2 separate regions of the Homo sapiens genome follow, and region 1 is linked to region 2. Evidence: fine-mapped expression QTL. A gene starts in region 2. The other region holds a variant in brackets. All regions are shown on one strand. Distances are from middle to middle. Region 1 has its middle 21 kb from the start of CKAP4. Region 2 holds the start of CKAP4 (cytoskeleton associated protein 4).

The links. PIP is the estimated chance that this variant, and not a neighbour inherited with it, causes the effect.
Region 1: its variant is fine-mapped to the expression of CKAP4 in whole blood (TOPMed, PIP above 0.99).

What each region holds. Positions count from the first base shown.
Region 1 is chr12:106,222,918-106,231,246 of GRCh38, forward strand. No RefSeq gene overlaps it. Among named protein-coding and RNA genes, the nearest start is that of CKAP4, 21 kb to the right of the region's middle. RefSeq lists an enhancer at 1,260-1,309 and a silencer at 1,360-1,469. The variant G/A (reference allele first, on the strand shown) is at 4,835.
Region 2 is chr12:106,244,898-106,253,226 of GRCh38, forward strand. It overlaps CKAP4 (cytoskeleton associated protein 4), which reads right to left and starts at 3,123. Exons shown (of 2, transcript NM_006825.4): 1 at 2,472-3,123. The coding sequence starts at 2,954. It overlaps LOC124903008 (a long non-coding RNA gene), which reads left to right and starts at 3,375. Exons shown (of 2, transcript XR_007063443.1): 1 at 3,375-3,862; 2 at 4,774-7,890. RefSeq lists silencers at 2,269-2,358, 3,019-3,328, 3,359-3,698.

The DNA of each region.
Region 1 (8,329 bases), 22 kb before region 2:
AGTTGTTTCAGACAGGTTGATAAATCCAGTCCCTGTTACTCTACCTGGCCAGAAACAGAAAGCAAGAGATTTTTTTTTTATGTATTTTCTTCTGAGATTTTTTTTTATCAGGATACATCAATCTGTGTAATATAGACATGCATGTATATATTCAACAAATCTTTGTTAGGTACCTGATAATAATGCTGTAAGCACTTTATAGATTTACTTCTCACGAATACTCTATGAGGTAGGTACTATTATAATCACCTCATTTTCCAGGTGAGGAACTGAGGCAATAAGTTTAAGTGCTTTGCCCCAAGTCACACACCCAGGTGGTCTAGCTGCAGAGCCTAAGTTTCTAGCCACGAGGCTATCCTGCCCCCACCAGCTCCAGAAACAAGTCCAAGGGTAATACCAGGACAGCGGGTAAGAGGGCCACAGCCACGGATGCAGGAATAGTCTGGAAAATGGGAAGTGAGGTAGGAGGGCCCTGAACAAGTCTCACCCACCCTATCCAGCGCTCACACTTCTGGTGCTGGCTTTGTGGTGCTAGGTGATTCTGGCAGGATCAGAGGCCAGTGGAGAAACAAATACCCAGAACCATCGAAAATACCCATTTGTCTCTTAATGACAAGCCCTTAGTCTTCCAGAGCACCCACTGAAATGACTCCAATGGAAAGAGACTCTGCCCAGAGTCAGAGGCTGGGAGGTGAGGGGACTGCCAATGGGGTTTCTGAAGCATAACAAGGCATGTTCGGTGGCCGCCTGAGCCAAGCCAGAAAGGGTTCGCCTGCTGACTTCACTTTTCATCTCTGCCAAGGAGCACCCAAGGCCACCACAGACTCTGCAGCAAGCCATTTCTGGAAGGCAGTTCCATCAAGAAAGAAAATAGGCTCTGCTTTTACAAAATGCAGAGATGGGCAAACCACCAGTGTGTGCTATCTGTAACTTTAATTGTTTCTTTGGGATTAAGCACTCCTCCAACAAGGGCAGGAGTGAGCTATAATGTCATGTTGGATTCCAGTCGACTTGGGGTGGTTTGACAGGCTGCCCAACCTGAGCATGTGACCCCAGGGGAGCTGTTTTAAGGCTTTTTTTTCCTCCTGCTGGATTCACTTAGACAGATTTTAGCCCCCAACAAAAGAAACTTTCCAGCCACACCCACCTCCTCCCCCAGCCCTTGCTTCTGGTTTCTTCCTTCTATAACCCACTTGGAATTCTTGGCTGATTCATTCCAGTTCTCTCCTGATGGGATTGCAGAATGTCAGAGCTAGAAGGGGCCATCAGGAAAAATTGGGCCAAGCTTCTTAACGGCAGGTCCCAGCTACTTCCATGCAGTCTGGCCTAGAACCTTCATCGGCTGCAGCTGCTCCCTCCCGGGCCGCTGCACTACAGTGCCCTCTTCTGGTAGTGGATGGCAATTGCCTCTGAGTGGCACCTGATTTTCAGGACTGTCCTGTGGCTCTGACATCTCCTCAGCATAGACTTTCTCTGCAGAGGGGCTCTAGGGGTTGAGTGTGTGGGCTGCCTCTCTGCAGATTTTACTCCCTCTCTCCTGTGCCCCTCCTTACCTCAGCAAGCCCCGGTTCCTTCCCGTGAAGGCTAGGAGGAAAGTAGCCATCTGCAGAAGAATCTGGGGAGGGACTGCCATGGTGGGCTTTAGTTCTTGGCTAGAAGAGCCTCTGTTCTCGGCAGGAGAAGCCAAATTGCACAAGAAAACCCAAAGATCTTCTTTGATGTACAAAGCCATGAAGTCACAGCCCTTAAAAGAGGTCGACAAAGAGCCCAAAGTTTCCATCAGGTTGACAATGTCCATGTAATTCATCTCACTCACTGCAAGGATCAAAACACCAAATGCTTCCAGGAGCCAGACAGGAGGCCTAAATGAATGGAGAAGCAGACACAAGTGAGTGGTGGGAAATGTGAGAATCTAGAGGCCACAGGCCCACCTGAAGACCTCACAATCAAACACAGGCCCACCTGAAGGCACTCACAATCAAACACAGGCCCACCTGAAGGCACTCACAATCAAACACAGGCCCACCTGAAGGCACTCACAATCAAACACAGGCCCACCTGAAGGCACTCACAATCAAACACAGGCCCACTTGAAGGCACTCACAATCAAACACAGGCCCACCTGAAGGCACTCATAATCAAAATTCCAAACTCAACGGGGCACAGTGGCTCATGCCTGTAATCCCAACACTTCAGCAGGCCGAGGTGCAAGGATTACTTGATCTGAGGAGTTTGATACCAGCCTAGGCAACATAGTGAGACCCCTGTCTCTATGAAAAGATCAAAACACGAGCCAGGTGTAGCGGTGTGCACCTGTGGTTCCAGCTACAAGAGAGGATTAAGCGGGAGGATCGCTTGAGCCCGGAGGGTCAAGGCTGCAAGTGAGCTATGATCATGCCACTGCACTCCAGCCTGGGCAATGGAGTAAGACCCTGTCAAAAAAAAAATTCTAAACTCACATTTTGCAGGCCAACAATAGAAGGGCTCATTTCACAAGCCTGGCATTTCAAATTCCCTGCATTTAGTCAATTTCTAAGTACTATTTATTGAGCACTTCACTGTCATGGCCACTGTTCTAAGCACCTCAGATGGAGTAAGCCTCACAACAACCCTATGAAGTAGGCACTATCATTAGCATCATTTGCATTTATAGGTGGGGAGACTGAGGCACGGAGCACTTAAGTAACTGTCCCGATGTCAGACAGATAGAATATGCCATGGCTGGGAACTCAAATAGTAAGGCTCAAAAACTCAACTTATCCAATTTCTTATCTTTTTTTTTTTTTTTTTTTTTGAGACAGGGTCTCACTTGGGCTAGAGGGCAGTGCTGCCGTCATGGGTCACTGCAGCCTTGACTTCCCAGGCTCAAGCAATCCTCCCACCTCAGCCTCCTGAATAGCTGGGTCTACAGACATGCATCACCACACCCGGCTAATTTTTATATTTTTTGTAGACATGGGGTTTTCCGCCATGTTGCCCAGGCTGGTCTCGAACTCCTGGGCTCAAGCAATCTGCCTGCCTTGTCCTCCCAAAGTGCTGGGATTACAGGCACAAGCCACTGCACCTGGCCAGAACCCAGTGTCTTAACCACCAGTACTATACACACAGTACAAGTACATAGTTGTATCCTGGGACATTATGGGAAGCTGATTTTATTACTATGGGAAAGGGAGTATGGTTTAACAGACAAAAAGCAGGCCTTATTAGAGACAAACAGAGTCCGAGTCCTGCTGCTACCACAGACTGCGTGCTCCCAGAGCAAATTAATGACCATTTCTTAGTGTCTGATCAGTAAATCAGAGACAACCACTTTTACTCCCTGGGATAATCGTCAGGGTAAGCGAGATGATAAATGTGTTCCACCTAAAGCATGACATCAAACACAAAACACAATTATGGGTGACTATTACTTAAGTGAAGGACTAAGCATCCAACATTTGACTTGCCTTATTTAAAGGGCGCCACTTGCACTTTTTTTTTTTTTTGTCCTTTTTGAAACAGAGTCTCACTCTGTTGCCCAGGCCGGAGTGCAGTGCTGTGATCTCAGCTCACAGCAACCTCCGCCTCCCAGGTTCAAGCGATTCTCCTGCCTCAGCCTCCCGAGTAGCTGGGATGACAGGCACGTGCCACCACGCCCAGCTAATTTTTTGTGTTTTTAGTAGAGATGGGGTTTCACCGTGTTAGCCAGGATGGTCTCGATCTCCGGACCTCGTGATCCGCCCACCTTGACCTCCCAAAGTGCTAGGATTACAGGCGTGAGCCACTGCGCACTTCTTAACTAGCTTGACATAGGAACGATAAAGGTCTTTCGGTATCTAAACTTCTACTAACAAAAGATTCATATTAAACAAAACCCTTTATTACCTAAGTTTTCAAAAGGGGCTAATTAGTAGGATAGTATACACATTACAAAAGCATTCATGTCACAGAGAAATACACACATAGGTCTTTTAAATAGTGGATTTCTCTGGTATTTTTAATGGTACAATTGGATTTTATCCCCTTTCTGGAACAAGAGCGAAAAATGAAGAAATCATTCCTGTGATCCCTGACTCTGACACTAGATGGCAATAAATTCTCACTTCAATTATGTTCTCTGGGTTCCTACTGCCACAGTCAGCTGATTTGGGGCTATTCCCCAGCTGAAAGTTCAGGGGCTTGAGCCGCTCTGGATTTTTTACTGGTGCATCCCGGCATCTTCTGAAAGTGAATAGTCTTCACATGAGGTTATCCAAGATGTCAGCCCGGCCCGGCCAACATTCCCCATTTCACCCCAATAAATGAGAAAACATTAATTGTGACCCAGTGTGTGCCGGCCCCCATGGGAGCTACAAACAGACCCTTGGTTAAGACAGAAGCCACCCTGGCCCCTAGAGATCTGCTCACTGTCTAGTCCTTTTTCCCTTAGGCCTCCTCCTGCCCACCCGAGGCTCCAAAAGACTCTTGTGCAATGGTTAAAGTCAAGGAAAGTTGGATCTGGAAGAGAACATGAAGATTACTTTATCTCCCCTCACTTTTCAGATGGGAAAACAGATGGAGGCCCAGAGAAGGAAAGTGAATTATCCTAGGCAGCACAGCCCGGCAGGCCAGCATTCGGACCAGAGTCCTGATTCCAGGTGACTTCCCCCATCCCTGCTGTTCTTGTCACACCATGTGAGAACTCCGTCCTGGAGTGCAAACCAAGATCATACCCGTGAATGGAAGAAAACAAAAAGACCTAGCCTTCTGAGTTTCCATGAAGGACTCTGTGGGACAGGATGTGTCCTCACACCAGCAGCCACACCCAGTTGGTAATGCCTCTTTCAACACAACATCACCAGCTATTTGAACACAG[G/A]CCGGGATTTCCCCACAGCCCCATTACCCAACAGGTATTGCTCCTGAGTGTTCGCTGCCACACGCGGGGGCTTGCACAGCAAGGCCAGGCTGCCACACCCCTTCCTGCCAAGAGTGGGTTTTGCTGCCTGCAGCAACTCAACTGCCCTGATTCTTCGCTTACTTCTGAGCATTTTGCATCTGTGCTTAGGCCTGGAGCCAAAACAAATTGTGGGGGATAAGAGAAGAAATTAGGCCCTGTCTTCTTAGCCAGTTAGTGTATGAGCTTGGGTGAACAACTTCTCTGAGACTCAGCCTCCCCATCTGTAAAACAACAGAATTAGATTAGAGCCTTCTCTCAGCCTTAGCTTTCTAAGGCCTGTCACATGGCTACTTAGCTATCATTACTATGAAAAGTAATCATGCGTAAATGCAGCACTTCACGTAATATATGTAGGCGTCATTTGTTTTCTGACCTGTACTAGTTTAACTATTAAAAGTATAAGCTTTTCTCTATGTGTTTCTTCCCCTTTAAAAAAAAAAAGTTTAATTACAAAATATTTCTGACCTATGAAAAGATATCAGGAATATGGGGAGGCCAGGCATGGTGGCTGACACCTGTAATCCCAGCACTTTGGGAGGCCAAGGCAGGTGATCACTTAAGTCCAGGAATTCAAGAACAGAGTGAGCAACAAGGCAAGAACTTGTCTCTACAAAAACACAAAAATTAGCCGGGTGTGGTGGTGCACGCCTGTTAGTCCCGGCTACTACTTGGGAGGCTGCGGTGGGAGAATCACTTGAGCTGGGGAGGTAGAGGCTACAGTGAGCCAAGATCGGCCACCGCACTGCAGCCTGGACGTATATATATCACATATATATATACCATCTCCCCATATTTTTTTATTTTTCTGAACAGAGCAAGACACTGTTCAAAAAAATTGTAAAAATGGGGAGATGGATATATATGTGATACACAAACATAGCAAAGTGTTCATTATAGTATCTAAGTAGTAGATATATGAGTGTCCGCTGGACAATTCTTTCAACTTTGCTGTTTGAATTTTCATAATAAAATATTGAAAGGAGAAAAAATGTATTATGAGTGATATCATGAATACTTAGGTAGCCTCCACTCAGCCTAAGAAATCAAATGATCTGAATTTGGATATTCGGTCTCCTAGTCATTTCTTGGTACTTTCACTACAATGTATAGTATTATTTTACACGGTAAAATGTCTTAGTTTTAAGAATTAAGGAATTTCTGAAGTGTCACACTGTGTATTTTGTCTGCAGCTTATTTTTTCACTCAGCATTTTAGTTGTGAGATTCATCCCCACGATATATGAGATTAGGATTTCTTCCTTTTTGTTGTCGTTTTGAGGTCTATTGTATGAACAAGTGATAGTGGATTTACTGATCTTGTAGCTACTTTCTCGGTGTTTCCACTTTTCTTTCTTCGTAAGCGGCGCTGCTGTGCCCATTCTCTCCACGGCTGCATGTCGCCTTGTGCGCAGGAAAGGGGACACAGTGGTGTTCAGGGGCTCTGTGGAGACACACATGGCCTCTAGCACAAGTGACCTGGGTGTTCAAACTATGTCCTCAGGAACCTGTGTTTTGCCGACTCTTGGTTCTGTTTTCTTCTATGCTGGCCTCATTCTCAGTGGACTCTGCACATGTGGTGGCCTTTAGCAGCCCTGGGCATTTATCCAGCTTGGCAGTCCCGGTGGGCAGAAAGCATCCCTTTCCAGAAAGTTCCAGCAGTAGTCAATGGACTGGATGGCGACCTGTATTCCTCCTGCACAAGTCAAACCAGATTTCTGATTGGCCAAACCTGGGTCATGCACTCAGCCCAGTCAGTCTCATCAAAGCCAAATGGACTGAGAGTGGGGAAGGGGTGATTCCCTAACAGAAAACAGAGAAGTGGTCACCAAATGAAGGAGGACTGGATGCTGGGCAGGCAACAACACATGTCCAGGACCCAGCAGTCCTCATGTGGTCCCTTGACCGCTGCACAGGTCACCCTGCATGTGATTATGGTGCCATTTACATGTCTGTGTCCCCTGTTTGGCTGGGAGCCTCTCAAAGAGGAAGACTTCATCTTTCATCTCATCTCCGCTGAGCAAATGCAGCTCAGCACCCAGTTTATAATAAATGACAGTAGGTGGAATCAATCCCTTGACCAAACACATCCTGAAGACGGGGAAGGGCAATTCAACCCTCTGCCTCTGAGGTTTTAGGTCCTCCCTCTGTGAACCCAGTCAGAGGGGTATGACGAAGAAAACGTCCACTACACCTCACCCTCTCTTTTTCTCTCTGAGTTACTGACCATCAGGACAAATGCAGTGTCCAGTTCAGAAGTCAGTATGTTCTCAAACAGCTGCCCTTTATTGAACACCTACTATGTCTCACACTTTTTTTTAATATATGGCTGGGCAAGATTCATCCAGATAGGAATGTTTCCAGCCTTCTGTGAATATGCTGAAAACAACTGTACACTTTAATAGGGTGAACTTTATGGTATGTGAATTTTATCTCAGTAAAGCTGTCATTTTTTAAAAGAAATACCAAGTCTTATATGGTATGATTTCATCTCTACAAAATTCAAAAATGGGCAAAATATTCTATGGTGATAGCAGAATAGTGGTTAGGTTAGAGGGTATTGACTGAGGAGCACGGGGAGCCCCTGGTGTGCTGGAAAAGTTGCATATCTTGATCTGGTAGTGAGTACATGGAGATATCGTGTGCAGAAATTCATTCAGCCATATATTTCAGATGTGTGTGCCTTAAAGCACCAAAGTTGCACCTCAACAAAAAGTAATCCCAAACAGTGATGTCTTTTTAAGTGAAGAAAAGAAACCAGTTCTAGAGCAGTACAAAATTTTAATGGTTTACCATTAAAATGTAATGGTTTGCCATTACTTTTAATGGCAAAAAACACGATTACTTTTGAACCAACCTAATAACTCAAGCTATTGGGTTCTAAACCTGGCTACCCCACTTGCTAGCTATGACTAGGAAGTACTTTGTCCAAGTTACTGAATCGCTCTGTACCTCAGTTTCCCCATCAGTAAAATGGAGAGGCCAATAGTACCTACCCTTAGGACTATTATAATGATTGAATGAGATAATCCTCGTAAAACCTTTAGAGCAGTGTCTGGCACATAGTAAATGCTCAATAAATTTTAGTTATTTCTGTTATTATTGATGTGGGCCAAGCACAATGATCTCTGTGGATGCAGAGATGAAAGACAGAGCCTTATTCTCATGTGGAACACACCAGAAGCAAGCGGTCATGATACAGACAGAGGAGCACTTTGAAGACAAGAAGCCTGGAGTGTGGGCTCTCGTGGGAGGAGCTCCCAAATTCAGCCTGTGGTTTGGGTTGAAGGATCCAGGGAACGTGCAAAGGCACCAAGAGTGACAGAACCAGGGGCCACATGAGGGGTAGTTATGCTAATCAGGGCGGCTACAAACAGAGTTCACAGAAGAGGAGGCTGGAGGGCAGGAAGACAGAGCA
Region 2 (8,329 bases):
TGGGAAAACTGAGCCCCAAAGAAGAAAGTGATCTATATACATAGCTGTGATGGAGAAGGGGTGAGAAGCAAAAAGAAGGGACTAAGTGAGGGGCAGGGAGAAGCACAGAGAATTAACCTGGATTCAAGACCTTCCCTATTTTGGCCTCAACTTCCAACCCACCCTCTCTCACAATTTCCTACATGTGACTCTGCCATTGGCAGGGTAGCCACCTCCTCTCTCTCAAACATGCTCAAAATAGTGCCCCTGCCACGGTGTTCATCACAGTCCTTCTCTCAACATTTATCGATCACCAGCTAGATGGCTGGCACTACCCTGGCCACCGGGATACAGGCGAAATTCCACACCCTCCCTCTTCTGAACTTTCACAGGAGTTACCCTCAACTGACACCTCCTTATGCGCTGCACAAGTGATTCGTGTCTTTTGCTCCTTCATACCCTCCCACAAAGCCTACACAGAGCCATGCAACTGTCAGACTTTAATAAATATTATGATTGACTAGTAAGTAGGAGGATGAAAGAGAAGAAACAGAGGCTAGTCATTATACTCCAGCAGTATGTCTATTTTTTAAGAATGGTTTGACATTCAGGATAGGCAAAGCAGCACTGCCTACTTAATTCCCTTAGAAAAGTCACCTCCCTTGGCCTGCAGCGTTTAGCAGGCTGACTCATTCCAGTTGCTCTGCCAGTCTTTTTTTTTTTTTTTTTTTTTTTTGAGACGGAGTCTCACTCTGTTGCCCCGGCTGGGGTGCACTGGCAGGATTTCCGCTCACTGCAACCTCCACCTCCCGGGTTCAAGCAATTCTCCTGCCTCAACCTCCTGAGTAGCTGGGACTACAGGCATGTGCCACCACACCCCGCTAATTTTTGTATTTTTAGTAGACACAGGGTTTCACCATGTTGGCCAGGCTGCTCTCAAACTTCTGACCTCAGGTGATCCGCCCGCCTCGGCCTCCTACAGTGCCGGGATTACAGGCGTGAGCCACCACGCCCGGCCGTGCTCTGCCAGTCTTAAGAGGAAATTCCTGGTCCTGCACACTCAACAAAAGCAGAGAGCAACTTGGCAGGACAGACAGCATGCTGGGAAAAGGAGGCAGTGGCTCCGGGATCAGAAGTGGCGGGATTTTTTGTTTCAGTCTTGCAACCAACTTTCATTGAGCAATGACATAGTGGAGGGCGAATAAGATCAAAGGGGCTGTACTTGGTATGGAAAAACCACAGAAGGGTGGAAGCTAAGCACCTTCGCCTTGAGAGTTGGGTCCATCCATACCTGAAATGGACCCCTGTGGACCCTTGACGAACAGGGCAGTGGCCTAGACATTCTCGTGTGTCTGTCACTCACCAGCTGGGGACTTTGTCAACTCATTCCTCTGTCTAAACCTCAATGTTCTGCTCTGGGAAATGAAATCAAAACTGTTAGTCCTCCCTCCCAGGGTAGTTATAAGAATTAGATAATATGTGAGTGAGTAAGCATTCTAAACACCATATAAATGTGGCTAGAAGTATTATTCACCAGTATGATCTAGTATTTTTGGCCCTCCTCTTCCCCTAAAGCGGAAGTAGGGCCGGGCGCAGTGGCTCACGCCTGTAATCCCAGCACTTTGGGAGGCCGAGGCAGGCGGATCACTTGAGGTCAGAAGTTCGAGACCAGCCTGGCCAATACGGTGAAACTTTGTCTCTACTACTAATAAAAAATTAGCTGGGTATGGTGGCACATGTCTGTAATCCCAGCTACTCAGGAGGCTGAGGCAGGAGAATCGCTGGAACCTGGGAGGCAGAGGTTGCAGTGAGCTGAGATCGTACCACTGCACTCCAGCCTGGGCGACAGAGCCAGACTCCCTCTCAAAAGAAAACCCAAAAAAGCTGAAGTAGGACTACGTCAAAGGCCCACCTGGGCAGGCTGGTCCAATACAGGACAAGGGACCTAAAGATAGATGGTATTTCATTTGGACCTGCAAATGAGTAAGAATGCCAGCTCCGGGTCTATTAAAAACCCCGCTCGGATGTCTCCCACAGGCAGAGCTGAGGTGGGGCCTTGCCTGAGGCTTCCAGGGATGCGCTGGCTTCCCTTCCAACCTCCTTTTCAGACAGCTCTGCCCATTCAGCGGTTCCTAATGCAGAAAGAATGGGCTCCCCGGAGCCTGCCGGCTTCCTTACAGGTCACCGCTAATGCCCTGTGACAGGCCCTTGGCCCACCCTGCCAGGCGGGCCTGGGCATCCTCGCGGCGGCCCATCCCTCGGGGCCGATTCCTCCGCAGCCATTAACAAAGGGGGTCTGGGGACTGCCTCGGAACTAGGGGGCCGCGTGGAGTGGGATGTCTAGGCCAGGGCCCGCCAAGGAGGAGCGGCCGGCTCCCGCCTCCGGGCCTGGGCAGGCAGCGCTAGGGGCCGGTCGGGAAGCACGAAGGAGCCCGGCCGTGGGTCCGGAGGCCGCAGTCGATGGGGACAGTTGCGGGGCCGGGGGTACCCACCTTCTGCTCGACGCCCTGCAAGCCCTGGCCCAGCTCCTCCCTCTGCCGGGAGAAGTCCTGGTGGCTGCGCCGGACCTGCTGGACCTCCTCCAGGACGTGGTGGACGCACCAGCCCGAGAAAGCGGCCGCCGCCACCAGGGCGAGGTAGAAGAGAAAGTTGAGCGCCCTGCCGAGCCTGCGCGAGCAGGACGCCGAGGACGAGGCGGCGGCGGCGGCAGCGGCGGCGGAGGCGGAGGAGGAGGAGGAGGACTTGCCGCCGCCGCCGCCGCCGCCGCGGTGGCCGCCCTTGCCGTGCGCCTGGTTCTGCGGGTGCTGCTGCGGGTGCTGCTGCGGGTGCGGCGCGGGCGGCGGCGGCGGCTGCTGCGGCGCCGGCGGCGGCTTCTTCGCCACGTCATCCGCGCCGCCCGACGGGTGGGCACCCTTCTCCGAGGGGCTCGCGGCGCCGTGGCCGCCCTTGGAGCCCCTTTGTTTGGCCGAGGGCATGGCGGGCGCGGCGGCGGCTCGGGCCGCGGGCTGGGAGGCGAGCGAGCGCGGCGCGCGGCCCGGGAAACTTGCAGGGGCTCCCCCGGGACTGGGCGAGCGGCACGCGGGCGCTGCTGGCGTCGGAGCGGCGAGAGGACGCGCGGCCGGGGAAGGAGGCCGGGCCGAGGAGGCGGGAGGAGGGGGCCTGCCTCCGCCGCCGCGGCGCCGACCCCGCCTCCCGGTAAGGGAGGCCGAGCGAGCCGAGCCGGGAGAGCTTGCCACGCACGCCGGCCCGGCGGCCCCTCCTCCCCGCCGCCACGACCCCGGAGAGGGAGGGCCGGGCGGGGTCTACGGGGGCCGGGAAGCCGGCGCGGGGGTGGCTGGGCGCGGGGCGGGGTCCCGGCGGGGTCTGCGGAGGCCGGGGTGGGCACCGAGGTGGCCGCGAGGGGAGGGGAGAAGAGCGGAGCGGAGGGGAGGGGACGCGGCCGAGGTGGGGCTGGCGGCCCGGCGGGTTCCACGCAGGCTGGGGGCGGAGGGCCAGATCGACCCCAGCCGGGGCGGCCGAGCAGGGTCCACGGGGGTCGGGGATGGGCGGCCAGGCGGGGTCGGAGGGACGAAAGCCGGGGTGAACCTGCGCCGCGGGCCAAGCGCGACCCCCTCCCTTCCCGACCTGTGCGGAGAGGAGAGAAATGAAGGGGGGCGCCCAAGGAGCCCTGGCCCCGGGAGTGGGAGTCAGCGGGTGGGAACAGATCGCCCTTCCTTTCCGCTGGGAATTGGGGGACTCCCCCTGCTTTCACTCTCCCAGCCCGCCATGGGGTTGGGCCTTGTCCTTTGCCTTGGGTTTGAAGGCGGAGACAAAAAAGGCTGTCCAAAATCCAGCCAGCTTGGGAGGCATGGTTGATGCGAGTTAGCAAAGATTCTCGACTGTGGTAAGTCTGTTCAAGGGGACGCATTCACCAAGTGTCCCCGTTAGCCAAGTTAGCCTGCTGTGGCCAGCTCTTTACTTTTTCCCCCCGAAGCCCCTTCAGCTCTGTTTTCTCTTTCGGGGTCATGAAGTTTGTCCACGGCCCCTACTCCTGACAGCCTCTGGGATGGGTGCTGCGGAGGCAGCAGCAGCCACACAGAAAGAGGCAGATCAGCGTTGTCACCCCTACTTTTGTAAAAGGAAATCTGGTATTGCCAGGCTGTGTGGTTAGCGACTCACATATGTTCTCGAAATCTCACAAAAGCCCTGTGAGGTAGAAATTATTTTACCCATTTTATAGGAAGGAAATTGAGACTGAGCGAGCCGGCTTCGGATTGGCTCAAGGTCACATATAGTCATCATTCGAACCTCACTCAGTCTGCTTCTTTCTGAAGTCTGTGCAGCTTAATCACTTCAGAATGGGAAGGAAACGGGGGCCCAGGGAAGTTAAGCAACTTGCCCACTCACTCAGTCTAATTGGTGCCGGGGCAGGGACAGAACTCACTCAATTCCACTGCTTTCCCCAGTTTCTGGTGAGTGATGTGTGCCTGGCACTGTGTGCACCTGGCACTGTGTGTAGTAGGAATGCTGTTTCTTCTGTCTGTAACCTCCTCCCAGTTCTGTAAACAAAGACAAAACCATGCCCTGCCCTTAAAGCCTATAGGGTTCAAATGCCACCTCTTTGATGATGCTTTCCCTATAACACCATTTGATACCTCTCATGGGACTTAGCAAGTAATTGCAACGAGAGGCATATATGTTAGTTCAATATAGCAAACCTTTGTTGAGGGCCCACTGTGTGCCAGGTATGTCTCCCCTCCCTGAGGACTGGAAGCAACCATAGTTTATATTTCTCCTTCTTTCTCGCTTTATAAGGTGTTGCTAAAAGCCTCCAGTGAATGAATGAACACTTGTGTGCCTGCCCTCAAGGAGCCTGCACTACACTTGGAGATATATACAGAAACCTGTTGAGGGCTAACTTAGGTAAATTGGGAACATAAATGTAAAGAGATTTGGAAAGCAAACCATTGGCCTGTACATGGGCAGGCTTTGGGGGCAGAAAGACCTTGAGCAGTGCCTTGAAGAATGATTTGCATATGAGGAGAGCAGGGAGGATATTTCTGTGGCGGAAATGGGGTGAGCCCAGGACACCTGTTGGCCATGAGGGTGTGTTCTACATGTAGAGAAGAAAGAGATGAACTGGGTGGAGCGGGTCCAGATTGCAGAAGGCTATAGAAGCCAAGCTGGCAGATAGAAGAATCGCTATTAGTGTGGGAGGACAGAGTAAATTATAGCAGGTTCTGGACTAGAAATACAACCATCTGCCCCAGACAGAGAGGAACACCCTACTTCAGCTAAATACCAGGAGCTATTGTAGGAGCCTCTAGGTTCAACAGGGCACAGGTCTCTGACCTGTGGCGCGGGGAGACAGCAGAAGAAATCAGAAGACACTCATCACAGGAACCTTGTTTAAAAACTATTCAGCTGAGTTCGGGTTGTGTTGTTAAAATCTCTAGCGCGCAAAAAGAGGTTATCCCCCTTCAAGCAGTTCTCCATGTTAGGGGCAGAGGCAGTGATAACTGGTAAAGCAGCTTGCTGCCAAGATCTGGCCTTGAAAGCAAGAGCCCTACTCCTTTAGTGCTACCAAAGTGTGTGACCTTGAGAAGTATCCCTAAACTCCTCTAGATTTCAGGGTCACCCTTTCTGTAAGGTGCATCTTTAAGGACCTGTCTTATTATTAATCCGTTTCTTAGAGAAATAGTCATCTGATCCTTATCAAAAATAATTAAATGATATTTAAATTTTTAAAAATTGATCCAGGCCAAGTACAGTGCCTCACACCTGTAATCCCAACGCTATGGGAGGCCAAGGCAGGAAGATCACTTGAGGCCAGGAGTTCAAGACCAGCCTAGATAACAGCAAGACCCTGACTCCACCAAAAAAAATTTAGCTGGATGTGGTGGCACTCAGGAGGCTGAGACAGGAGGATCGCTTGAGCCTGGGAGTTCAAGGTTATAGTGAGCTATGATGGCACCACTGTACTCCAGCCTGGGCAACAGAGCAAGACCCTGTCTCAGGAAAAAAAAAAAAGCAGACTGTAGGCCAGATATGAGAATGGACGGTTTCTCAATTTTTACCTCTACTGAGCACTGAATGAATGAATAGAGAGTAGGACGATGGGACTGTTAATATTTTCAGCATTTCCCTCTCATTCTTTTCCTCTGGGAGATAGTACATACAATGGTTAAGACACAGGCTATAGAATAGACTGACTTGGGTTCAAATTCAGCTCCATGACTGACTTTGGAGTGTGACCTCTCTGAACCTCAGTATCTTCAGCTATAAGACAGGAGTAATTGCTACCTCACTAGGCCAGGTGTGGTGGCTCACACCTATAATCCCAGTACTTGGGGAGGCCGAGGCAGATGGACTGCTTGAGCCCAAGAGTTCAAAACAAGCCTGGGCAACAAGGCAAAACCCTGTCCCTACAAAAAATACAAAAAAAAATTATCCAGGCATGGTGGAGTGTGACTGTAGTCCCAGCTACTTGGGGAGCTGAGGTGAGAGGATCACTTGGGCCTGGAAAGTCAAGGCTGCAGTGAGCCCTGTTCACCATTGCACTCCACCCAAAAAAAAAGAACAACCTTGCTGTTATGCGGATTAGACAAGAGACACCATATGATACTGGGCATATGGCAATGCTCAGTGAATATTGGACAGCTAATACAATTTGCAGAGTCACTGAGGAAAAGTATAGCTTCAGAGAGCTTCTGTGTCCAGATTTCAACGATTTTCTTTCATCATTATTTCGTGGGGCTCCCAGGACCATATGTGGCTCACAAACCACAGGCTAGGATGTGTTTAACGTTAAAAGCAAGCAGTGTGTTTCTCTGAAGTGTGGCTCCACCATGGTGTTCGGTTACACCCAGAGGAGGAGGCTGGTGGGCAGTCATAGAAGTGCATCTTCCAGAGCAGGAAGGGATCAACAGCTCTTCCTGGAGACTTCCATTCTCCTACCCCAGTTTCTGAGCACAGCATGAATCTAGAGGAGTTTCTCTTCTGCTTTTCCTCCTAGTTTTGTTTCCTCTATCCCTTTTCCTTGCTAAAGTGTGTTGGATGGTCAGGAATGTGGGCGGAGAAGAGGGGGAGCTGGAGACATCTCATCCTTTCATCCAGCTTGTGTAAAAATGCCTCAGAACTCCCTCATACCACATGCACCATAAATTATAAGGTCAAGCTTTGTAAGCCTGCAGCCCTCTTGGCTTTTTGCATGTTGGTTAGAATGCCTAAATAGAAAGCCTCTGTTAATGTTGATTGCCTCTTGTCTGTTCCAGGTTGGCAAGGCCCCCAGTGGCCAAGGCATGAGCCTGGATGCCCTGCAAATTGAGTACGTGTTAGGGATGGGGGCCATTCTTTATAGTTTGACTCTGGAGAGCTAGGACCACCTTTCCCAGCCTCAGGGGTGCACATCCTCAGGAGCTGCCTACCTCCAGATATTGTAAGTCCATGCAGAAGAGGAAGGGCCCAGCTGGGGCACCTCTTGGTTGAGGAATGAGTATGTGACATTTTCATGTGGGCACATTTTGATACTACTTTAAAAATAGACCAAGCACAGTGGCTCACACCTGTAATTCCAGCACTTCGGGACGCTGAGAGAGGTGGATCACCTGAGGTCAGGAGTTCGAGATCAGCCTGGCCAACATGGAGAAACCCCGCCTCTACTAAAAATACAAAACATTAGCTGGGTGTGGTGGCACACACCTGTAATTCCAGCTACTCGGGAGGCAGAAGCAGGAGAATCGCTTGAATCCAGGAGGCGGAGGTTGCAGTAAGCCGAGATCACGCCACTACACTCCAGCTTACACTGGACATGATGAGGAGGAGGAGGATGATGGTGGTGATTATGATAGAAATGGTGATGGTGATGATGACAATGGTGATAGTAGGGATGGTCTTGCTCTGTCGCAATCAATAAATGAATGCATAAACACATTTCTACTTGTTTTTGCAGTCCTAAGATAAGTGCTCAGTAGCATCCCTGCCCTTCTAATGTGAACTTGAGGGATGGGTAAGACCCAGAGATGGCATGGGGGACGGGATAAGGAAGGCCTACTGTTCATATTGTGAACATGAAATGGTTTTACATTTTGATGCCACTTCATTAAATTGACTGTATGATATGAGCTAACGCTACACCCTCCTTTAAATTTTGGCTAACACATCCATATCCTCAGGTGGTATCAGTTGATAATGCCCATGAAAATATTTTGTAAACTACAGGGTGCTAAACAATTATTTACTTGTATCCCTTTCTGTGGGGCACAGTTTGATGCTATACACAAAGCAGTGAAGTCTCGACAAGAATGATGACCACTACAATGAGCACAAAATAAAGTCTTTTTGGGGTTTTTTGTTTTTTGTTTTCTTTTTG